3 separate regions of the Homo sapiens genome follow, and regions 1 and 2 are each reported to be linked to region 3. Evidence: microRNA targets listed by miRTarBase, many of them from high-throughput screens and not tested one by one. Region 3 holds a microRNA gene; each other region holds the end of a gene's coding sequence.

Evidence for each region. The annotated mature microRNA hsa-miR-7153-5p reads UGAGAACUGACAAAUGUGGUAGG and lies in region 3 at 3,775-3,797, shown strand. An mRNA with a match to its seed (bases 2 to 7 or 8) in the 3' UTR can be bound and repressed. Matches are read on the target gene's strand: a 7mer-m8 pairs with bases 2 to 8, a 7mer-A1 pairs with bases 2 to 7 and ends in A, and an 8mer does both.
Region 1: the mRNA of NSL1 is a reported target of hsa-miR-7153-5p. The part of its 3' UTR that is shown has no 7-base or 8-base seed match.
Region 2: miRTarBase lists MDN1 as a target of hsa-miR-7153-5p. Seed matches in the 3' UTR shown: 7mer-A1 at 3,267-3,273.

What each region holds. Positions count from the first base shown.
Region 1 is chr1:212,732,529-212,739,528 of GRCh38, forward strand. It overlaps NSL1 (NSL1 component of MIS12 kinetochore complex), which reads right to left. Exons shown (of 6, transcript NM_015471.4): 6 at 1-6,158. The coding sequence ends at 5,880. Among named protein-coding and RNA genes, the nearest start is that of BATF3, 36 kb to the left of the region's middle. RefSeq lists a silencer at 5,245-5,445.
Region 2 is chr6:89,637,975-89,646,702 of GRCh38, reverse strand. MDN1 (midasin AAA ATPase 1) reads left to right here. Exons shown (of 102, transcript NM_014611.3): 100 at 100-163; 101 at 1,546-1,688; 102 at 2,510-4,205. The coding sequence ends at 2,698. It overlaps LYRM2 (LYR motif containing 2), which reads left to right and starts at 7,956. Exons shown (of 3, transcript NM_020466.5): 1 at 7,956-8,031. The coding sequence starts at 7,987. It overlaps MDN1-AS1 (MDN1 antisense RNA 1), which reads right to left and starts at 8,171. Exons shown (of 4, transcript NR_111915.1): 1 at 8,067-8,171. RefSeq lists enhancers at 8,157-8,206, 8,427-8,656, 8,009-8,728.
Region 3 is chr18:11,649,988-11,658,715 of GRCh38, reverse strand. MIR7153 (microRNA 7153) reads left to right here and starts at 3,775; the gene lies at 3,775-3,831. RefSeq lists a cis regulatory region at 880 and an enhancer at 796-965.

The sequences.
Region 1 (7,000 bases), not on the chromosome of region 3:
GGTGATCTGCCTGTCTCGGCCTCCCAAGGTGCTGGGATTACAGGTGTGAGCCACCGCACCCGGCCTACATAGTCTTATTCCAACCTGGTCTGCCTAGTCTCCAAATCTGCTGATTAGTTAGTAGCCTGTAGACTCGAGTGTGCTGTGTTTTGGGAGCCTTAGTTTCCCAGATCCCATGGCTGCTGCTTTTTTGGTTTACCCTTTGGAATAGAGCACAGCCCCTGGTAGAACCCCCAAACGGGATGCCTTGGAGGTAATTTTTTTTGACGCTTTGCATATCTGAGATATCTTTTAGCTAATCATGCACTTGATTATTAGTTTGACTGTGTATAAAAGCCTAGGTTGTATATCATTTATGCTGAGAATATTTCTCCAGATGCTTCTAGATTTTAGGATTGTTGTTTAGTAATCTGATGCCATTCCAATTCCTCTTGGTATTCCTCAGGTCTGGGAATGTTTCTTGTGTTATTTCTATTTCTTTATTCTCTTTTTAAATTGAGATATACTTTACCATCTCACTCACCCTTTTAAACTGTATTGTTCAATGGTTTTCAGTATATTCAACAAGCAGTCGTGAATCACCATAATCAAATTTAGAGGGTTTTCATCACCCTCAAAAGACATCCCAGGCCAGGCGCAGTGGCTCACGCCTGTAATCCAGCACTTTGGGAGGCAGAGGTGGGCGGATCGCTTGAGCTCACGAGTTTGAGACCAGCCACATAGCGAAACTCCGTCTCTACAAAAAATACAAAAATTAGCTGGGCATGATGGTGCATGCCTATAGTCCCACCTACTTGGGAGGCTAAGGTGGGAGGATGGCTTGAGTTGCGGGGGCAGAGGTTGCAGTAAGCCAAGATAGCACCACTGTACTCCAGCTTGGGCAACACAGCAAGACCTTGTTTCACAAAAAAAAAAAAAAAAAAATCCCATACCCATTAGCAGTCACTTCCTATTCCTTCCACCCTCTCCATCTTTCCAGCCTTAGGCAGTGACAGATCTATTTTTTGTTTCTGTAGATTTGCCTGTTCTGGACAGTTCATTTACATGGAGTCTACAAAATTCAGCAGTCTTTTGTGAGAGGCTTCTTTCACTTGGCATGTTTTAAGGTTCATCTACACTGTGGCATTTACCAGTACCTCATTTCTTCTTATTGCCAAATAATATTCTATTGAGTGGATAGTCCACATTTTATTTATCCATTCATCAGTTCATGAAAGTTCAACCTGCTGCTACAAACATTTGTGTGTAAGTTATTGTGTGAGCATGTTTTCAATTCTCTTAGGTTTAGAACGTGGAGTAAAATTGCTGGGCCATATGGTAACTGCATTATCTCTTTGATAATTTTGACTCTGCTGCTTTTTCTGCATGCTATCTCTGGAATGGGTATCGATTAGACTTTGAACTTTATGAACTTATTCTCTTTATTCTTACTTTTCTAATTTGCCATTTCTTAATCTTTCTGTTTTATTTTTGGGAAAATTTCATTTTATCTCCCAGCCCTCCCACTGAATTTTTATTTCAACTTTCATATTTTTAATTTTCAAAAACTTTTTCTTATTTACTGAACATTATTTAATAGCATTCCGATTTTCCAAAAAATGTATGATTTTCTCTTCTTTCTGGGAGTACAGTCATCATTCTGGGATTTTGCTTTGTATGTATCTGTTTTCTTTGAGGTCCTTTATTCTCTTTGGTTTTTGTTTTAATTCACTCAGTTAACCACTATGCATCGAGGGCCCATCATGTGCCAGCAATTATTCCAGGTGGATGGAACAAAGATTCCTGCCATTAAGGGACTTACAGTTTTTGGGTCTGTCTTTGATGCTGGAGACGCTCCTCAAATATTTGGTGAATCAGTTTTGTGCATTTTTAAAATATAAAACTTAAATAAAGTGCAGAAATTTTAAGTGTATAGTTCAACAAAATTTTACATACATATACAGCCATGTGAGCACCACTCAGATCAAGATACAGAACATTTTGCTCACCCAAAAATGTTTCCCGTGCCATTCCCAGTTAATATCTCCCCTCTCCCCAGAGGGAACCACCATGGCTTAGTTTTGCCCATTCTGTGATTCCATACACAGGATGTATTCTCTTGTGCCTGGCTTTGCTTCTTTTATTCAATATAGTATCTTTGATATTGATCCACATTGTTATAACAGTAATTTGTTCTTTATTCCTGTATTCCTTCCCTGATTATTTGCCTAAAACATTCAAGACTGCTCAAATGCCACCTCTTCTACAAAGACTTCCATGACTACTCCCCTAAGTTCCACACATACATCTATCATACCATTTGCTGCATGGCATTATCATTGTTTGCACACTCATCCTCTTCACTGGAATATGACCTTCCTGAAGGCAACACTTGTCCTGAGTGTTTTCATTTCCTTTATCAAAAGAAGTAATAACAGTGATCATAGAGTACTCATATGCACCAGTTATTAGTCTAAGGCCTTCACATTATGAACTCATTTACTTCTCAGAATAACGCTATGAGGTAGGCATAATTATTATCCCCATTTTGCACATGAGAAAACTGCAGCATAGACAGGTTATGTAACTTGCCCAATGTCACTGAACTAATAATGGTAGAACTGCAATCTGAACCCAGATGATCTGGCTCAGAGACTATGCTCTTTAAGATCTCTGACTTTTGATCATAGACAGGTTAAGTAACTTGTCCAATATCATTGAACTAATAATGGTAGAACTGAAATCTGAACTCAGATGATCTGGCTTAGAGGCTGTGCTCTTAAGATCTCTGACTTTTGATCCGAGTAGGTGTCCAACTGTATGTGTTGAACAGATGAATAAATGAATGAAGGTGGATAGAGAAGATAGGTGTTCACCAGAAATCAAACAAATTCAGCCTTAGAAAAGAAAAAGTACATCTTACAAGATGAAATCATACTGTTTGAAGCAATAAAAAATTTGGTTTTATTCACTTTGTCCTCTACGGAGCCCAAGCCATAAAGGGCCAGGGAAAGAGGTCTAGGATAAGATTTTCTGTGGGCTTGTGTTATGGACTCAATGTTTGTGTCCCCCTAAAATCTGTATGATGAAGCCTTAACTCCCATGTGCCTATAGCTGTATTTGGAGATGGGGCCTCTAAGGAAATAATTAAGGTTAAATGAGGCCATAAGGGTGGGGCTCTGATCTGATACAATTGGTGTCCTTATAAGAAGAGACACCAGAGAGCTTGCACTCTGTCCCTCTCTCCACATGCATGCACTGAGGAAAGGCCATGTGAGGACATAGTAAGGAGGTGGTCATCTACAAGTCGGGAAGACAGCCCTCACCAGAAACTGCATTTGCCAGCACCTTCTCATGGACTTCTAGCCTCCAGAACTGTGAGAAGTAAGTATCTGTTGTTTAAGCCACCCAGCCTGTGGTATTCTGTTATAGTAGCCTAAATAAACAAATGTAGATTTTGGTACCAGTTTTCAGAAACCAGCTTTGACAGTGTTCTCTCTTCTTTGGGACTAGACTTAACCTTCTTGTGTTCTTCTTATTATTATTTTGAAACAGGGTCTCACTCTGTCACCCAGGCTGGAGTACAGTGGTGCCATCCTGGCTCACTGCAACTTCTGCCTCCAGGGCTCAAGTGATCCTCTCATTTCAGCCTCCTGGGTGGCTGGGACTACAGGTGTGTGCCATCACACCCTGCTAATTTTTGTATTTTTTGTAGAAATGGAGTTTCACTATGTTGCCCAGGCTGGGCTCAAGTAATCTGTCCACTTCAGCCTCCCAAAGTGCTGGGATTACAGGCATGAGCCCACCGCGCCTGGCTATTTCTTTTCTGAAAGATAATTTTAAGACCCTATTCAATCCAGACTCTTTTTATCATAGAGCAAGATTTGATTTTCAATTTTTTCCTTCAACCTTTCCAATTCCTTAAAACTACAGACTTTCTTGCTTTTAATCCTTAGCTTACTAGTTCTTGGCCTATGCAGAAATGCAACTTCTCCTCTTACACAGTATACTTATTCAATATTATTACTGCTATTGGTCATGCTTTTCTTAGTTAATAATGCTAATACGTACTGTCTTTCCCAGTGGTATTTCTATTTTAAACTCTGCTATAACTATGGAGTAAAACTTTGGGCTCTCAAGAGGATTTCAAATCTCAGCTGTCTGCCTGGGGACTTTAAAATATAACCATTTTTTAAAAACTTATAAAAATTTCCAACACAAAGTAGAATATAGTCATTACACAGATTCAACATTAACAGGATTTTTGTCACATTTCCTTAATCGATTCCTTGTTTCTCTGCTGAATACTTCAGAGCAAATCTATCATGTCATTTAAAAACTCTATGTAGCACAATATACCTCTCTTAAAAGGGAGGGACCATGTTCTTATATAATCAAAATGCAAGTAGCTTATATAATCTAATAGAATTAACAATAACTCTTTTGTTTGGGGACCTCTGAAGTGAAACAAATCATACAGAATTTTAATACTATAAAAACATTAGCACTGTAAAAACAGCAACATATTATACAGCCTCAAAACAGTTTTAAACTGAAGTCTAGTATGTTCAGAAACGCAGGGTGCTGACCCACCATCCAACTGAAGCTGAGCTCAGGAATGCCTAAGACAACTCATAAAAATACACAGCATCAAGATCAGTCTTTGTACATTATTTCAATGAAAAACACATAGCTGTGTACAAATATACAGATCTCAAACTGTAACACTGAAACACAAAATGCAACAAAGTGGCTTTATAAGTTTTCTTCACTGAGACAGACCTTCTGGTGACTTCTGGTGAATCTAGACATTTATGATTATTAATACATAATAAGCAAGAGAAATACAGATTTTCCAACCTCATGATCAGTAAATTCCTTTGAAAAATGAATGAAGGTATCAGAGTCATCAAAAGGGGAAACAGTTGGTAAGTTTGATGGCCCTGCCTACACTGTATAATGTAAGACACACAATAAGAGCTATAAGAAACTATAGTTAAATGTTAGAAGTAAAGCCAATATCGTTTTCTCAGACTTCTCCCAGTGATTATATACCTGATATATAAACATCTTCAAATGTGAAATAGTTCAATAACACAATGACACTTTGCCAGTGTATTAATCTGATATATATTTTGAACTGGAATGATTTGTAAAGAAATAAATAAGAAACCCTAAAAAGAAACCATTAGTTCCAAGTCAAATTATGTTAATGGTCTATAGAAAAAAGTGAGTGTGGGCAGGAAACATTGGCTACATGCCAATTTTTATTTCAAAGAGTAATGTTGCACAAATAATAGTTATCATTGTCTTACACAACAAAAAATCCTAAAGTTAATCTCACAAACCTAAATTAGCTGAACATGGAGTAACAAAGTCAAAGCCAGTATTATCATCAGCACATTAATTTGATAAATCAAACTACATCTTTAAAAAAAAACCCTGCATCTGCTGCTGTGCAGAACTGATAATTACTTTTCAGCATGTAAACGAAAAATCATTATACAGCTCTCTCTCTTTTTTTTTTTTTTCCTAGAAAGATGTATACCAGGGAAACACAACAGAATTTGTTACTTGTTAAATCCCACAAAAGCTACAAGGGAGCTGAGAGTTGATGGCACTTAAGGACAGTAAAAGTCTGCACTTTTAATATTTTTAATGCCCACTGATGGGCTTTGTGTCAATACTTTTTAAAATGCTTTTTATTTACAATAGATAAAACAGTAAGGAAATACAATATTATATCATATCCCCGCACAGAGATACTATATCTGTATAAATGAATCACTAGTAAAAGAGTTATTTCTTATTTCAAATGAAGTCTTATCTAGGTATTAATTAGGCTGTAATCTAAATGTTGATGGTGCCTATTTTCAACTCCCAAAATAAACAGAAAGAGCTCATGTATCAAGATTAATTTTCTTTGGCCGCAATGGATACCATTTTCTCTGGGGGCAGTCTTTAGTTTGCTTTCTTTTCAGTACCATGTCAGAGGTTTTCCTGGAAGCAGTCTCTGTTGGTGTGGTTTCTATCTGTGTTATAAAGTTCTCAGGTTTAGCATCTGGTTTCCTATGACAACTGGAAAAGACTTCTTGGTGAATCCTCTGGAGGTGGATAACAGGCTGCATCCTGAGAACTTGGGAAAATCCCTCTCCTTGTTCAATTAATGCAGGCAAGGACTTCAAACAAACAAACAGTAATATTCAACATTAATCTCAGGTTGAAACACAAACAGACAAAGATGGATGCAGTACTCTAATTTTTTTTTTTTTTCTTGAGAAGTCTTGCTTTGTTGCCCAGGCTGGAGGGCAGTGGTGTGATCTCAGCTCACTGCAATCTCCACCTCCTGGGTTCAAGCAATTCACCTGCCTCAGCCTCCCGAGTAGTTGGGACTACAGGCGCGCACCACCACACTTGGCTAATTTTTGTATTTTTAGTAGACGTGGACTTTCACCATGTTGGCCAGGCTGGTCTTGAACTCCTGACCTCAGGTGATCTGACTGCCTTGGCCTCCCAAAGTGCTTGGATTACAGGTGTAAGCCACTGTGCCCTTGCTGATCCAGGCTTTAAATGCTGGATTGTAGGTTACTTATGTGCGCAACCTGCTTAGCCTCTCTGTGCCTCAGCTTCCTCATCTACAAAAGAAATAACAGTATCTGTCTCATAGGATGTAAGGATTACATGAGACAATACATGTAAAGCAGTTGGATGGTGCCCATACCAATTATTCAATACATTTTAGCTGGTATTATTATCCAAAACTGTTCGGTGAACTGCTAACACCCAGAACACAAAAATATAATCAACCTTTAAAGAAGACAGGTATATTACCTGGCACATAGTAGGTACCTGATAAATGGCAGCTATTCTAAATGTTACTGTTGCTTAATAAATTCATTAAAGATTTATTTAAAGGACCGCTGAGAATTCCTGTTAGAGCAGACTAAAACACATATGAATGTTGAATGCAAATACCTAGCCATACATTTTGTTCATTTGATAATTTTTTTAGCACATAGCT
Region 2 (8,728 bases), not on the chromosome of region 3:
CTGATAATCACTTCAATGTCAGAAATACTATCAGTCTCTTTGACAATGAGAAGAGCATTCACATAGTTTTCTAATTGTCTATTCCTGGTTCCGGTTTAGTTTCTAGAGTCTGTTGCCAACATGTTTGCAGCTGCTCAGCAGCTCTCGCAGAACATCAGTTCAGGTGAGCTGCATGCCTTCCTCTTCATTAACAAAATGCTTTCTTGTACTCTATATTCCCAAGCTGCTTGCTTCAGCTCAGTGTCCCCGTCACTGTGTTTTAATAGGTATGCTCCACAGGAAAAGACATAAATTGATGGAGCTGATTTTTACTTATTTATTCATTCATTCAGAAATTTTTGTTGAACCTGTACTCATGAGGCTTATAATCAATGGGGGATCTAGACACTAACTAGTATATACTTACTTGAGTTCAGATTTATAAGAGAAAGGAGCAAGGTGTGTGTGGAATTAAATATAAAGGCTACAATTAACCCTTGAATACCACAGGTTTGTCTGTACAGATCAGGTCTACTTACACATGGAGTTTTTCCAACCAAAAGTGGATTGAAAATTCAGCATTTGAGGGATGCAAAACCCGAGTATATGGAGGGCCAACTTTTCATGTATGCGGGTTCTCCAGGGCCATCTCTGGACTTGAATATGTGTGTATTCTGGTATACTGGGGGTGAGGGGGTGTGTGTCCTGAAACCAGCCCCCTGCAAGTACTGTATTCTCTAATATTTTAATAACAGAGGAAAGTAGAGAAGGACATAATATAAAAACCAGCTAATCCAACCACATTTACTTTGGGGGCTTGAAACATGCCAATTATTTAGTTCTTTTCCAAAAATCTCTCACTGTTCTCAGTGTATCATGCAGAAGCTTCAGATTTTGATGGAAGCAAGTTATTCACACCTGTCAACATTTGCTAAAACAGCCCACCCTCAACTCATGTACTATATAATCTTTAGCTGGAAACACTATGTAGCAAAAATTTTAAAACATTTTATTCAGTGTTGAGTGTTTCCTTTCTATTTGTTTTTGTTTAAACAAGTCAAATTTCAAGGGCAAAAAAATATAGAAATTAGGTACAAGGAATTAACAGAAATCTAAAGATGATTATATGTAACGACTGAAATTTGGAAGACACAGTTCCAGATTTCTGATTTGGCCACTTTCTTCTAATGCCCTTCTCAGTACTATCATTTTTAAAGTTTATAGCCATAAACTAGTGTTTTAATTCTCATGTACAGTATGTTGCTCTACAATTTGAAGTTGAGCAGAACTTAACATTTCTTGAAGCACTATTGAGAAATTCTTCTATACTGACAGAAGCTTACTTAGTATCCCTTATTATGCCTTGTCTCTGACTCAAGCATTCTAAGGGATAGATCTCATCAGAGGTCCCTTAGGTTTGTGCCCAGAATTCATCAGCTTTAGAGGTCTGTTTAGCTTTAATAGTACAGAGAAAGCCTACACTAATTTGTCCTACTTTGGGTAGTTGTGAGTTATTAAAAATGGCTGTTCATTTTATTCCCTTGCTTCGTCTTATATGGTCTACAGAAACTGCACAACTCCTCCTGGTAGTCTCTGATGGGCGAGGCCTTTTCCTTGAGGGCAAAGAAAGAGTCCTGGCAGCAGTTCAGGCTGCCCGGAATGCAAATATCTTTGTCATCTTTGTTGTATTGGACAATCCCAGTTCACGGGTGAGTGACTACTAAAAGCCACCTTTTCTGGAGGTAAAGTGGGGATTCCCTTCAACCTGTTCAATCTGAAATATGGCCTGGATCACTCAGTCATACTGAGAACTCCCAGCATTCATAGTATTCTGTCAAGTACCATTGTAGGCACTTGTAAGTATTTTCTCTATTAATCTTTGCAATAAGCCAGTGAGGTAGGGATCATTATTCCCACTTTACACTGAAGGAACTGAAACACATAGAGGTTATAGGTAATGAGTGGGAGAGCCAAGATTCAGAATGACCATCCTCTGTGGGTCATCATTTCCCTCTATGCAAAGTCAGTGCAGGTATTGCAGCCTTGATAATGGGTACTGACCACTTTGAAATGGAGATTAGGTGTTGCCACACTTAACTTATGTCTCAGTAGCTCCTCACAGCAAGAAGCATCAATCATCTTAGTGAAATATGCCTATAGGGCAGTTCTGTTCCAGGGAAGCATTGTCTCTGTGGGTCACATTAAGGCCTTGATAGGAAGGTAAAGATTTAGTGTGAATGATTCCAAGTGGATGATGGGGAGACACCACTGTAGGGAAAGCAGATTTTCCTGTCTATCCCTTTTCCTTTTTTTCAGTGTCCATCCTCCTGGAAGGGGCACTCAGAAAGACATCTACCTCCTTCTTAGTAGAGTTCTGAAAATTCTCTTTTACTTAGTAATAAAAGGTAGGTTCATATGCAGGAATAAGACACAGGAGATGTAAAAGTTAGCAAAAGAGATCACAGAAGAGCTAGCTAAGGATGCTGGTTTAATCGCTGCCTCCCCATTTCAAAATGTCTTTTGTTGACAGGATTCTATCTTGGACATTAAAGTACCGATATTTAAAGGACCTGGAGAGATGCCTGAAATCCGATCCTACATGGAAGAGTTCCCATTCCCATACTATATCATTCTTCGAGATGTAAACGCACTTCCTGAGACACTCAGCGATGCCCTCAGACAGTGGTTTGAGTTGGTGACAGCCTCTGACCACCCATAGAACAGAAAGAAGAGTCCAAAGTGAGACTTAACTGTGGTCAGAAGGTCACATTGCTTACCCAGGTGCTCCCTTTTGGACAACTACAAAAAATTTTATTGTAATATTTTTATTTTACAACGTGATCTTACAGCCTACAGAATGCTCTCTGGCTCCCGGCTTTGCCTGGGCTGAGGTTTTTATACCAAACCTGGAAGCAGCAGCAGGTGCCTGAACTCGTAACTAGAGAAGAGTTATCCTTCTTCCCTGCCTTGGAAGCCCTGGCCTGGGAGGAGGTCATACCCCACCGTTGGAGCCCAGCTGCCTGTTTTCTTTTGCAGGGGATCTGGGCACCTGTGCCTTGAGGAGATGCTGCCAGGAGCATGGGACTCTGACAGTCCTTTGTATAAAGGACTAAAGGGAGCTGCCCTTTTGACCCTGTTCTAAGCTCTGCCTTGCCAAGCCCATAGTGTGTGCCCAAAAGCTGTCAAGTGGCCAAGACAGCTCGTTTCTGGAGAGTATGAGGGTGTGTTTTCTTATTGTGAAAGGAACTACCTTCTCTTAGAGGGTAGGAAGAATGTGGTGTGTGTGTGTTCTCATAAAGCAACTGGACATTATAGGTGCCCAGGTCATCTATAAAAACGATCCTTGGGCTGTGTAAAAATGAAGTGGCTTTTCAGTATCCTCTTTCACACTTGCTGCTTCGGGAGACTATGCAATGATGGGAAGGTGATTGCCCCTTTATTTCATTCAGTGCCATGGTCCCTGTTGTTGTAGTAATTTATTTGTTTAGTTCATTTTTTTTTTTCTTAACAGTCAAGGGGAAGAGTGATTCCTCACACTGCTTTCAAGCTGGACTGAGCCAGTCTCATTCTGGGAAAGAAACGCTGTGTCCAGAACTCAGCAGCTCCATCTATTTTTTCCAGTCGAAAGAAACTGATCTTTAGGCAGTTTTTACTTGGCCAGAAAGCAGTGCTGAATACTTGAAACTGTGTGCTCTGTTCTACTTAATGTTCTGTCAGAATGTTCTTTTGTAGGCAGTATGTCATGATGTAATCATCTATCTCCTTGTCTGTTTCCAAGTTACACTGTGAAGTCTGCGACCCTTTTGAGGTGGTCATCAAAGACACAGATTCCTTGTTTAACCAAGTGTCCCAAAGCATGTACCTGAAGTTATATCATTTTTTATTCTAAAAAGCTATGCAGCTTATATTCTGAAAACTATTAAAACATATACCACTGTTGTTGATGTAATTTGTGACTCTTCTTAATGGAAGATGACAGGATTGTAAAAGGTATGCTAGGGGACTGATCTTCTCTGCTGGATCAGTCAGTCAGCTGTTACTAGTTGATGCTGTGCTAACATGATCCCCTCCTACTTCCATGTTGCTCTTACTACAAAGGTTATCATTTGCATTTATGTCCATGGTAGGCTGAGCTATAATATGCTGGCTTTGCAGCAGAATGAAAAGGATGAGTTGGTGTAGCCTTATAAGGAGGCTTATAAAAATTAATTATCCTCCATAAATGATGATGTTGCATCCCACTCACATTTCATTGGCTAAAGCCCTCTATGGGGCAGGGAGTTTAATCTTCCAGTAGGGTTGAGTCTGGGAGGGAAAGACACCAATATTATGACAATGCTGCAGTCTATTACATCTGCCTTTGGAAGCTCCATCTTTCTTAGACCTCAAACTGGTGTGCCCAGAGTGATTCCCTTGGCCCTGGGTTAGCTCATGAGATCATGGACAGTAGGAATTCCAGGAAGCAGGAACCCAAGAGTGCCATTTTCAACTTGTGCTGCCAACAGGGGCTTGCAGGAGTAGTGATCAATTAATCTGCCATGTTGATAGTTGACATTTGTGCTATCCTGCCCACCCCCCCCTCCCCCAACCCCCCAGGCCTTGGCCAAATAGGTAAGTAAGTAAGTTCTGATATTTAAGGAATGGACAGCAGAACACAAAAGTCCTCCATGCTGTCTTAAAAATCTCACTTTGGGGCTGGGTGCAGTGGCTCACGCCTATAATCCCAGCACTTTGGGAGGCCAAGGTGGGTGGATCACTTAAGGTTAGGAGTTAGTTTGAGACCAGGCTGGCCCATATGGTGAAACCCCATCTCTACTAAAAATACAGAAAATTAGCTGGGTGTGGTGACGCGCACCTGTAATCCCAAGCTACTTGGGAGGCTGAGGCAGGAGAACTGCTTGAACCAGGAGGTGGAGGTTGCAGTGAACTGAGATTGTGCCACTGCACTCCAGCCTGGGCAACAGAGCAAGACTCTATCTCAACAACAACAATAAAATCTCACTTTGGATAACTTCTTCACCACTCCCGTGGCCTCCACCATCACTGAAGCAAAAGGACTGTAAAATTCTCCATCCAGGGGTCCAGGAAATCTACTCTTTGGTATTCTTAATTATATTCAGACATCTGCTGGATGTCACTGTGTTCTAATTCCCCTATTCCAAACCCATTCCTTCAACATTCCCCATCTGGGATGACCACTCCAACAGCCACCCTGTTTACAAACTTGGGACTTAACCTATACATCTGCTTTACTTCCTTCTCCATCTCTATCCATACCCCAATCAAATTAATTAATCATCTTGTCCAGTCAGGCTTCTGGATATCCTGTCCCATCCCTCCCCCTCCCCCTACTGCACTGTGACTGGGACTCTTTTAATCTCTAGCAGGGACTACTTCAATGGTATCCTGGCCAGGCCAGTAACTTCTCTTTGCTTGCTTCACTTCATCCTATTCACAACATCCAAGATCTTTCTAAAAGTTCTGTAGCTGAAAATCCCTTCAAAGCTCTCCCTTGTGAAGAGGGTAATATTCAAGCTTCTTCATGTGACCTGTGAGGCTCTTGCTTGACTCTCCTGTCCCTCCTCTCCCAGCATTCCTGCCAGTGTTTCCATGTGTTGTCTGGAATCCTCTTAGTGATTCTGCGTTTCTGACAAATACCTAGCTCAGACAAGCCCTCCAGGAAGAATAATTTCCCACAGTATGAACTGCAGCATTCTTTGTTAGCACTATATTGAACTTAGAGGTTTTCCTGCCCAAAGCATGAGTCTTTGAGCAAGGAGCATATGTGACTCACGACAGCATTACCAGTGTCTAGCAAGAGTGAGCCCTTTTTTTTTTTTTTTTTTTTTTTTAAATAGAGCTTTGCTCTTGTTGCCCAGGCTGGAGTGCAATGGCGCAATCTCGGCTCACTGCAACCTCCGTCTCCCAGGTTCAAGCGATTCTCCTGCCTGAGCCTCCCAAGTAGCTGGGACCACAGGCGTGCGCCACCAGGCCCGGCTAATTTTTTGTATTTTAGTAGAGACGAGGTTTCACCATGTTGGCCAGGCTGGTCTCGAACTCCTGACCTCAGGTGATCCACCTCGGTATCCCAAAGTGTTGGGATTATAGGCATGAGCCACCGCACCTGGCCTGAGTGTTTCTTGATGGGAAGAAGAAATAATGTAAAAATGTCTTTCTCACATATTAATGTATAGATTCAACACTACTTCAAAATTCCAACCAAGATCACAAGATGATTTGGAGGGAAATGATACAAAACATTTCTAAAGATTATAGAGAACAGTACTAATGGATTTTTTACAAGAAACTAGAGTCCTGCCAGATAATAAAAACATATAAAACAAAAAGTAAAAACTTAACCCTAAATGAAACAATTCTGGACAGATTACTCAGACCCTAAAAGAATTTATCATACAGTCAAAAAGGCATCCATCATAAAGCCCCGAAAAAGGAATGAGTTATGTAATCAATGGTATTGATACAGCTTAACATCTAGAAAAGAACTTAGATCCACGTGATGCTGTAAACCAAAGTAAATTCTAGATGGAGTAAATATTTTAAAAATTAAAGTTTTTAAAAAACGAATTACAAAGGCCTGAATGGGAAATGAAAAGCCTCAAAAGGCACAAAAATACATGATTGTATAAAGTTTCTGTATGTATAAAGAAATGACAAAAAATATAGAGCCCATATAAATGTCCTCATCATAAACGGACCCAAGTCATGAACAATTCACAAAAACAGTATAACTAAAAATGGCGAGGGGTATTTAACTTCACTCCTTTTAAAAAGTTAGCAATTAACTATTACAGCTAATGTATTAGACAAAATTTGGCATATATTATTGATAATATGATCATGCAGTTAGCATCATTCATACAATGCCTGGTAAAGTTCAAAAGAGCTAATGATTAGAGTTCTTACATGTGCCAGGACCTGTTCTCAGTACATTAGAGATACACAACTGAGGTAGATGCTATATTTCACTTTACAGGGGAGGTAATAGGCCAGGAGAGGGGAAATAGCCAGAACACAGCTAGGAATAGGGAGCCCCAGGATGCTAACAGGCGAGGCAAGCAAGTCCCCAGTAAACTAGTAATTGAACATTTTTCGTTCTATTTTAATTCGATACAACACCACTTGGAAAATTAATATGGCAAAGATTCGCTAACTCCACTTCTAGTGATTTAACCCAAAGGCATGTGTATTGTGGGAAAGATAAAACAACTATAAGGAAATAAAAGCAAAAGCCTGAGGCTTAGGGATGTTAGGCTCCTCGTTATTAGTGATGAAAAGTGCTTAAGACTGAAGTGGGTGAGCCATTCAAAGCTTTGTTTCAAATGATCATGAAGGCCACCGCTCCCGGAAAACCTTTGCGCTACAAAAGAACAGGACAAAAACGAGAAAGAGAAAAAACCAACACAAACTGTAAAAGAAATTAACACTTTCAATTTTAGTATTTTCAACTATACACATTTTTAAAGGCTCGAAAGAACATTTAAATACGTTTTCACCTCTTTCCCCCAAAAAAACCTTAACTTTTTTTTCGAGACAGGGTCTCGCTCTGTCGCCCAGGATGGAGTGCAGTGGTGCGATCTCGGATCACTGCAACCTTCACTTCTCGGGTTCAAGCGATTCTCCTGCCTCAGCATCCCGAGGAGCTGGGATTACAGGCACCTTACAGGCCTCCCAGAGTGCTTGGGACTGCAGGTGAGAGCCACCGCGCCCGGCCTCCTTCACTTTCATTTGAACTCTCTTTACCAGGAACTGTGTTAAGTGCCCTACCTTTCTTCTTTATCAAAACGACCCTATGGTGCACTGTTATCCTATTTTACCGACGAGAAAACTTCGGCCAGCGCAGCAGCTAGGGCTCAGTCCCGAAGCCTCGCGCTCTCAGTCCGAGAGCAACCCGCGGGCCGTCTCCTAGGAAACCGGGCTCGCCACACCCCTTGGTCGAACCCCACTTCCGCTCCTGCGCGCTGAGGCTCCGGCGGACCTCTGGTGGACATGGCTGCTTCCCGCTTACCCCCAGCGACGCTAACGTTAAAGCAGGTACCGGCGGTTCTCTGCCTTCCAAAGCAGCTTACCTGGGTCTGAGCTGGATTCTCCATCTGTCCCTATCCCCAACGGGGCGGGTTCCGGGGTCCTGATGCGGCGTGCGCGCCCTCTGAGATTGGCCCGATGCCTGCGGGGCGGTGCTTCGCTCCGCGGGGCCTGACGGGAGGCACTGGCTGCTTCCTTGGTTTGGTGCGATCGCGTGAGACAGCGTCAGGCGCTTGATTTCCCTGAGTCCCGGTGCCTCAGCTGCCCAGTGCCCACGGTAAAAGTCTATTGCACTGAGCTGTGGCAAACAGCAAATGAGATTACCAAAGATTTGAACAACTGTTAATTTAGAAAAAGTGCTGTCGTTGTAATAACAACTTCTAGGAGACCGGCAGCCCTTTTCAGCCCGGTAGGCAGCTCCTGATTTTTTAATGGTTCTTAGGTTTGACAGAGCAGTAAGCAAAAAGATCAGATGAACCTCGTGATGCTTTCTTTAAAACATCTTTTTGAGACAGGGCCTCACTCTCGCCCAGGCTGAGTGCAGTAGCGCAATGAAGGCTTACCTCAGCTTAGACCTCCTGGGCTCAAGTGATCCTCCCATCTTGGCCTCCCAAAGTGCTGGGATTACAGGCCTGAGCCACTGCATCTGGCCAAAAAAAGAAAAAAAAAAGTTTTTCTTTGCCTTTTTCAAAATTGACCAACGAGA
Region 3 (8,728 bases):
AGCAAACCCATGAAAGAAACCTCCCAGGTCAAAGAAAGCTTGGCACCCAAGAATAAAAAATACAGCCCTGTGTCTGGGGCATGTGTCCCAGAGGAGGACTGGCTGGAGGTGAGACTGCATGGGGCCTGACACCACGCTGAAGATCACGGTTTCAGTGACTTAAAAGTTTGTGGAAGTAATGTTCTCCCAACTAGCTGCTGTTTGGAGCACGGATGGGGGAAAGAAAGCCTGTAGGATGCTCTTGGGAGTGTCAGGCCATGGAAATGATAGTTGCTTTGGTTAGGTTACAGGGAGTAGAGACGGAGAAAAGTGGATGAGGTTGAAATATATTTAGGACACAGAATGGGTAGGACTCAATGCCATGTTGGATGCAAGTGCGGAGGGACAAAGGGATCAAGGATGAGTTTGTCCTCAGCACAAATGACTTTCCCATGGAAGAACCATTTTGTGAAGTGGGATGAGCTTGTGTTGGGGGGAGGCTGACTCTGCACTGGTTTTGGGACCTTCTGAGGTTGAGGCAATGTGAGACCTTCACACGGGGATGTGCAGTTGGGAGTTGATCTGGAGGGCTGGAATTCAGAGCAGAGATTGGGTCGAGAGACGGAAATTTGGCATTGTGAACATGTTTGAAGCCATGGGAGTGGGTGAGACCTTTGAAGAGAGATCACAGAGTGAGAACTGAAGTGAGTTGAAAGCAGGATTTTGATAAATTCCAATGTTCAAACTAGGCTTGGAGAAGGAGCAGGAGCTCTGAAAGGAAACTCAGAAAATGTGGCCAGAGGGTCAGAGGGTAAACAGAGAGTGGTTCCTCAGGAAGCCGGGGAGTGGGTGTTTCAAGAAGCTTAGCGGTGTGCAAGGCTTCCAAGAGCCATGAAGAAACTGAGCAAGATGGCAGGCTTATCATCACGCAAGCCTCTGCTGGCCTAAAGGAGAGTGTTTTAGTGGCTGGATGTCCGACTGGGGGGTGCTGAGGAGTGGGGCTGAGGAAGAGTGGACGGACGGATGGCCAGATGAATCAAAACAAAGCTCCGGTGGGAAGAGAGAGCAAGGAGCTGGAGGGGACCAAATCCTGGGGGGGGGGCTCCCAGGGGCAAAGGAGAGCAGGCACGGATGCCAATGGAGAGGCATTTTGTGAGAAAAGGCTGAGGTTTTATGAGAAAGAGGGAAAAAGGGAGTGGAGTGCCTGAGGAGGCTGGGTGGGCCAGGGCTACTCGGAAGCATCTAGAGAAGTGCTGCCTTTTGATAGGAAGAAAGGGCTCTCGTTTTAGTTTTAAAAAAAAAAAGATGCAGTGAGTGGCATTGCTGCGCACAGGCTCTGGTGAAATGGCGTCAGGATGCGTCAGAATTCCTCACCGGCGTCTTCAGATTTTCTCTGAAGTATTTGAGATAAGATCATCTTCCATAGGGTGGCAGCAACAGTGGGAGGTTTGAGGGAAATGGAAACTGCAAGAAATTGTTACTGTGTGGAGGTGCTGGGGAAGCAGGCATTCGGAGACCTTTATTAGGTTTCATGATATGAAGATGACACAGGAGAGCTCATCAGCTCCAAAGTATTTACAATCGAATTTCCTAAAGAAGTGGACTGGCTGCACAGATTGTGGTCGCTGTCCTTCATGCTTGTGCTGGTATTTAGAGCACAGTGTCTCTGTCTTACCCCCCAAAGCAGCTCTGGACTCAATGTCTAATGAGCATCTGAGATGGCACCCCACCTTTTTAGTTTTGCTGTTTAAAAATAGTTTCACAAATGACTTTCCTCTGCTAGGGAGCAAATGTCAAAACACTTTCTGAGAACTCCCATGACCTGACTGTTGAAGTGACAAAGCCTATATCCCTTAGAACAAAGTAAATTCTGGTGCTTCTTTTTTGGTGTCTGTTTTGTATTGTATCTATTTTTTAGAGATGGGGTCTTTCCATGTTGCCCAGGCTAGAGTGCAGGGGGGGCATGATCATAGCTCATTTTAGCCTCCAACTCCTGCACTCAAGTGATCCTCGCACCTCAGCCTCCCGAGTAGTTGGGCCTACAGGTGGTGCCACCACACCAAGCTCTGTCTGTTGATTGGGATGCAGCTAGGGTGGGGTGAGTGGTAGAGGTAGATTCATTGGCACAGGAAGGCCCCCACACACATGAGACCAGAGGAACTGGCTCCATCCCTGTGTCTGACTTGCCTTTGTTGTAGAAGCAATGGTCCAGCTCCCAGGTCTAGAGGCTTGAGTTTGTTAAAATGTGCTGGACATCCAGACAAATCAGACACTTTTTATGGAAAGCTATATAAAGGACACCATCCTTCCTAACAATACCACAGAGATTCAAGGGATTCAAAAATCGAGAATGAAATCCGTTCCAAAGCACGATACTGATGGCCTAATTTTGGCTTATGTCCTGCTGAGTTACCCCCAGTAGTGGGCCTGAGCCCCTTGGGGGAGGGACAAAGTAAAAGGTGGGTTGGTTGGGGAGAAGTGTTGACCTGGAAGTTGTAGCTGAACTTCAGTAAACTCTTTTATGAGGGGTATAAGCTTTGCACCCTGATTACGTACTAGAAAGATAATTGCTATTCAAACTTAAAAATGGCTACATGTACTATCTTGGTTTCCAGTGCTCCACAATCTGGTTGGAGTCCCATCTATTCTTTCATGCTTAGTTGGAATCTTCTTCCCTAGCTATATTGATTAAATAGGGATGAATCACGCCCTTAACCACGCTCAGAGCACTCCTGAGATAGTATCTTCTTTCCCCTTTGTTATCAGTTCCTCAAAGACAGGAGGATGTCTCTTATGTGTTTATATTCCCAGGGTTTCATACTTAGTACTTTTTTGATGTGCTTACCTCTTTGAAGTTTTAGGGAACTTGCTCAATAATAAAGACTAGACATTGAATTTGCTGTCGAGATGTTCAAAGCTGAGGCTTTTTTTTTTCTTTTGCTGTGATTCCAGAAAATCCTGTCTTCCATCTGTGTTTGGGAGGCAACTGAGCGGTCTCGCCTGGCAGTTTCCTGTTGGGCTTGTTTCTTCAGCGGACCCAGGTCTGGTGTTCCTTCTCTGTCCCTCACCACGACCTCTCTACTATTGAACTTATAAAAGGGGAGATAAGGAGTGTAAACCATTTAGAAAACATATGTTTGATATTTATAGCTACAGAAGATATTTAAGGTGTGATTGATCACACGTGAATTTCCTTCCAAACAACAAACCGAGCTGGGAAAACACTCAGTGGTGTAGACCGCCCCCTGCTGGCCTCGTTCCGAACCCCAGAGCGCGCCGGTGCCATCCCGTCGCGTTGCCGCAGGGAGGGGAGGAGTACCGTGCCCACACCTAGGAATGTATCTTCGTGGAAACCCCATGGCACAGGGTGTTGTGTCCTTTGGAGCCCCTCCTCGCAGCTGTGAGCTATTTACTAATAGCTATCACGTGGGGAGGTTGTGTTGCTTTAAAAATGGAATGATATTTCTGCTTTACAGTTTTCCTAAATCTGGGCATCTAGTGAAGCTGTCCTTCGGGAATTCACGCTCCAGCTGGAAGCCAAAGGGGGAGGGCTGTGTTCTCTGAGGGAGTTGGAGGTCACCCCGTGCTGGCGAAAGGTCTGGGAGTGGAGCTCAGGAGGTCTGCCTTTGACTCCGGCCTCCTTCTCCAAACTGGGGGTTTCCTTGTCAATGGAGTGGTTTGACTAGGTGATTTCTAAGGACCCTTCAGCTGTGTCATGGTGGGCAGCACCGTCCTGCCTTCCTGGAGCTTACATTCCAGCTAGCGTGTTTACTCGAGCTCCTGTGCTCGGTGTGGTGAGAACTGACAAATGTGGTAGGTGGTCGAAGTCATCCACACCATGGACGGTTTACCACTTCTGTGACCGGACCCTGAAGTCGGGATTTGCTGGGAAGCACACAGGTGCACCCATCTCCTTCCAGGTCACTGCCCCAGTCAATTCGTGCTGGCTGAGGCCGTCTGCGCATCCAGCACTCCTTGGTAATTCTTGTATGTCTTCATTCCGCTTTTCCTGCATTAAGCATGGAAGCTCTTTCCAAACTTCTTGGTACCCGGGTCCTTTGATCCTCCTGCCCCTGCTGCTTACTCTCTTAGCAGAAAACCCTACCTCCCTCCTGCAGAAAAGACGCTGTCTGAATTGCTAGCCTTCCCCTCACTACTGGCTGGCTCTCATCAGTGTTGAATTTACCTTTGCCCCAACCAAAAAGCCAAAATACTGGATGCTGCATTTGCCACCTGCATTCCATATCTCATATCTTTCCTTCCCTTCACAGTCAAATTTCTTGAAAGCAGTGTCTACATCCACTGTCTTCCTTTCTTGCCTCGACTTGTTCCCGAAGCCACTGCAGGCTGGCTGACTTCCTCATCTCCACTCCACCGAAACGGCATCATTTCAAGGTCCCCCAGTACCTGCATGTTGCTGAAGCCAGTGGGCACCTAACACTTTTTGTTTGGGGCACTAGACCATTCCCCATGCTCTCGATCAATGCTCCTGGTTTCCCCCTTCATTTCAGCTGCTTATTTCCTGTGGTAAGGGTCCTGCTTGCTTTTTGTCTTCCTTTGCGTTCTTTCCCAGATGTTTTTCGGTTTTGCTCCCCATCCTGCCACCACGGGAGCAGAAGAGGCAGGTGCAGGGATGCAGAAGCACAGCAGGGAGGTGCTTTAGACGGGTTGGCTAGAAGGCCTGTGGAAGAGGGCATTTGGCCTTGCTCATTTCAGAATTCCTGCGAAGAGAGCACAGGGGCAAGGGCCTTCCCTAGATTACAAATGGAAATGAAGCACAAGCTTGAGTGCCAGAGCAGCATCAGCTGCTGTGTGGCGTGGGAAGGGACCCCGACGTCCTAGGGATGCAGGGTAGATCTGAGCTACTTGCTGGGGAGCTTGCCCTAGAAGTCTGCCAAGGTGGGGTTGGAGGGGCCCTGCAGATGAGAGCGGCCAGGTGAGCTGCCTGGACTGGGGGCAGGTGGGATTGCAATGTAACAAGTGGACGCCAAGAGGCCCCACCGCACAGCAGGAGCTGAGGTGGGGTTCGCCAGCAGTGGGAGACAGCCAGGCTCTTTGGGAGGGATGCCCGTACTAAAGGGAAAGTCACATTTCTCAGCTGGATTCCATTTCACTCTCACTTAAGTGGAACCAGCCAATGTGCACCCAGGACAGGATCCAAGGTGGGGACCCATGGAAGGAGCACAGGCCTCCAGCGCTGCGAAGGCATGGGCACCACTCCAGGCCCACATCCTCTTGGAGAAGAGCAAGAGAGTGGAAGAAGCAGGAAACGTTATTTACCCGCCTCAGAAGTCACCCAAGAGCTCGTGAAATTGGGCAGGGACTGTGGTAACATAAAGTTTCAAGTTCAAAGTTTATGTGTCCTTCCTTACTCCCGGTGGAGTGGGCTCATGAGAATATCCAAGTGTTTATAAAGGATAAAGAACCCACATTTTCTTTGCACATCTGGCTGGAAAGTGAGAAATGTATAAATTTTTGAAGAAACTGAAGGGACTGTCATACATCTGTAATAATGATACACGTAAAGTCTGTGGAATAACATGAAAAATCTGTAAGATGTACCATTAAGCGAGCAAAGAATAAAACTTGTGTGTTTGATTTTAACCGTGTAAAATCAAATACTTTTGAGTAAAACCTGGAAAAAACGTGAGGAAAATAAAACCAACTATCACTGTGGTAGGAGTGTAGGTGGATTTTTAAAAAATCCTCTCGTCTTATTTATTAAGAATAAAATAAGGTTGTTAATTCATTTTTTTGATTGTGGTATACTTTAAATTTCTTTCCTGGTGGTGCAGTGTACCCCACTTTTTTTTTCTTTCACTGGAACTAATGTTTCTGTTTGGAAAAGCACACATAGGCCAGGTGCACTTTGGGAGGCTGAGGCGGGTGGATCAGCTGAGGTCAGGAGTTCAAGGGGCCCTCCAGCCTGGCCAACATGTTGAAACCCCAACTGTAGTAAAAATACAAAAAGTTAGCTGGACGTGGTGGTGTGCACCTGTAATTCCAGCTACTTGGGAGACTGAGGCAGGAGAATCACTCGAACCTGGGGGGCGGTGGTTGCAGTGAGCCGACATTGCGTCACTGCATACCAGCCTGGGTGACAGAGCAAGACTCTGTCAAAAAAAAAAAAAAAAAAAAAAAAAGAAAAAAAAGGAAAACCACACACAATAAAATTTTAATAACTATTCCTTTCTTAAAAATCATGAAAATGCCATGTCATTTCCTTTTACTGAAAAAAATTACATAAAATTTAAGTATAAAATATGTCATAGAATAGTAAATAAAATATGATCCCATTTATGTAAAACAATGGGTTGTTTTAAATCCCATGTGCTACCTCTGCTTTCATTCCTCAATATTCTCCAATTTCCCTTTGCTTCCCTATACTTTTGTATTGGGAAACATTATCTATTCCTGCATAAAAAAATTACCTAACACTCAGTGGTCTTAAGCAGCAATATCTATTACCTTGCACTGATTCAGTGGACCAGGAATTTGGGAGTGGCTTAACTAGAAACTTCTTATGAAGCTGTAGCCAGGACCCCACCAGCACCACAGTGGCTGAGAGCTTTGTACAGGGGGTGGACACTCCAGCTTTTGCATACCACCAAATCCACAGCTTCTCCCAAATGTTAAGTTTTTGTTACTGAGGTACCTTTCTTCTGCATTCCAAAATCTACTAGTTGTCTATCACTGCATTAACAAATCACCCCACGAGTTGGATGCTTAAAGCAATGATTTCAGGATGTCCCACTCACATGACTGGCAGGCTGGAATGGGGCTGGCGTCGGCAGGTGCCCTTAGCTCCTTGCTGCATGGGCCTCTCCACAGGGCTGCTGACGTGTCCTCATGGCATGGTCATTGGTTACCCCACTAATGAGTGATCCCAGAGAACTTAAGGGTAGGCCAAAATATCTTTTGTTACCTAGCCTGCGAAGTCATACTCCATGATTTCTGCAATATCCTATTGGTTACACCCTTAAGCCATGCTCATTTTGGAAGAGAATACATGAGGGTATGAATACCAGGAGGTCGGGGGCATTGGGTTTCTCTTGGAAACTGGCTACCATAGTCTGCCCTCTCACCCCCAGTGACTCATGTCCTTCCTGCATGCAAACTACAGTCATCTCAATGCCCCCCAAAGTCTCATCCTGTAAAAGCATCACCTTGAAAAATCCAGGATCTCAAGATCTGAATCAGGCCCAAGTGTGGTTGAGGCTACTCCGATCCAGTTTCTCTTGATCTGAGGATCTATGAATGAAAGAGACAAATTATTTGCCTGTCACACATCCAACATATGATGATGTGACAGGCACAAGATAGCTGCTAAGACGTTCCTGTCTAAAAAGAGGGGAAATGGGAGCCGTACAGGAATCACTGGTCCATACCAATTCTGAAATCCATCTGGGCACAGTTTGAAAGTTACGTGAATAGGACTCAGTCCTACTCCTGTCTGGGAATGAGTCTCCCTGCTTCTTGGCTCTGCCCTGCCGGCCTTATTTCCATGTTTCCGTCATTCCTCCTTTGTAGACTACGTTTGAAACTGAGTAGTCTTTCAGTCTTCCTGCCTGCAAATGTTTGAGGGTTCAAAGCCACTTTTCATTTGTACCTCTGTCCCTTTCAGTCCAAGCTGGTGTTTCTGCCAAAGCAATTCTTTTCCAGTAGCTGGGAGCCTCCTTGATGGGCTCATTCCATTTGACAGAAGTCACGCCCGTAAATCTCTTTAAAATAAATCTTTCTCTTTACCTTTAGGCTGCTACTGAGACTGCTAAATGGCAACACCTTTAACATATGCAGAAGTCCTGCTGTTTGACTGAACAGTTCTTTGGGATTTTGCAGTCACACACTGGATGTCATCTTTCGATCTTCTTTTCTTGAGAGGGCCCTGGATATGTATGATCTTTGATAAGAAGCCAGTTCTTACCTTTAGCATCTTTGCCATCTGAAGATGGAGAGGCTGGGAATGTCCAACAGTTCCTGCTAGTATAAATAGCAGGAAAAAAAATCAGGGGCACCTTTAAAACTCAGTTCACAGGATACATTTTCTATTTTCCACATTCTGTAGACGACAGCGTTGCTATACGTTTTGCCACTGCATAACCACCTGTTTCCAATGAGTCGCCTCAGTTTCCTTTAAGCCCTCACAGACAACCTTCTCAAATGTCACCATGCTTTTGCTAACAGTCCCTTGAAAGTCCTTTAGGCTTTCATTAACATTCCTTAAAGTCCTGCCAGCTTCCTCCCACTGCCAAATCCACAGCATCTCCCACATTTTAGGTTTTTGTTACAGTAACATCCCGCCTCCACCTTCCAAAATATATTAGTTATTTACTGCTGCATAACAAGTTACCCTAAAACCTAGATGCTTAAAACACTAAAAAACATTTATTATGTCACCCATGTTCTGTGGGTCAGGAATTAAGGCATGACTATTTAGTTGGGTGGTCCTGCCTTAGGGTCTCTTATTAAATGGCAGTTAAAATGTCAGCTGGAATACAGTCATTTGAAGACTTATCTGGAATCAGCAAACCCAATTTCAGGATGCCTCACTCGCATGGCTGGCTGTTGTTGCTGGCTGCTGGAAGCAAGCCTTGTTTCCTTGACACACGGATCTCTCCACAGGGCTGCTTGAGTTTCCTCACAGCATGGCAGCTGGTTTCTTCCAGAATGAGTGAGAACTTGCTTTTTATGCCCTTGATGTGGACATCACACACTCATTTATTTCTGCAGTGACAGCCTATCCCACTTA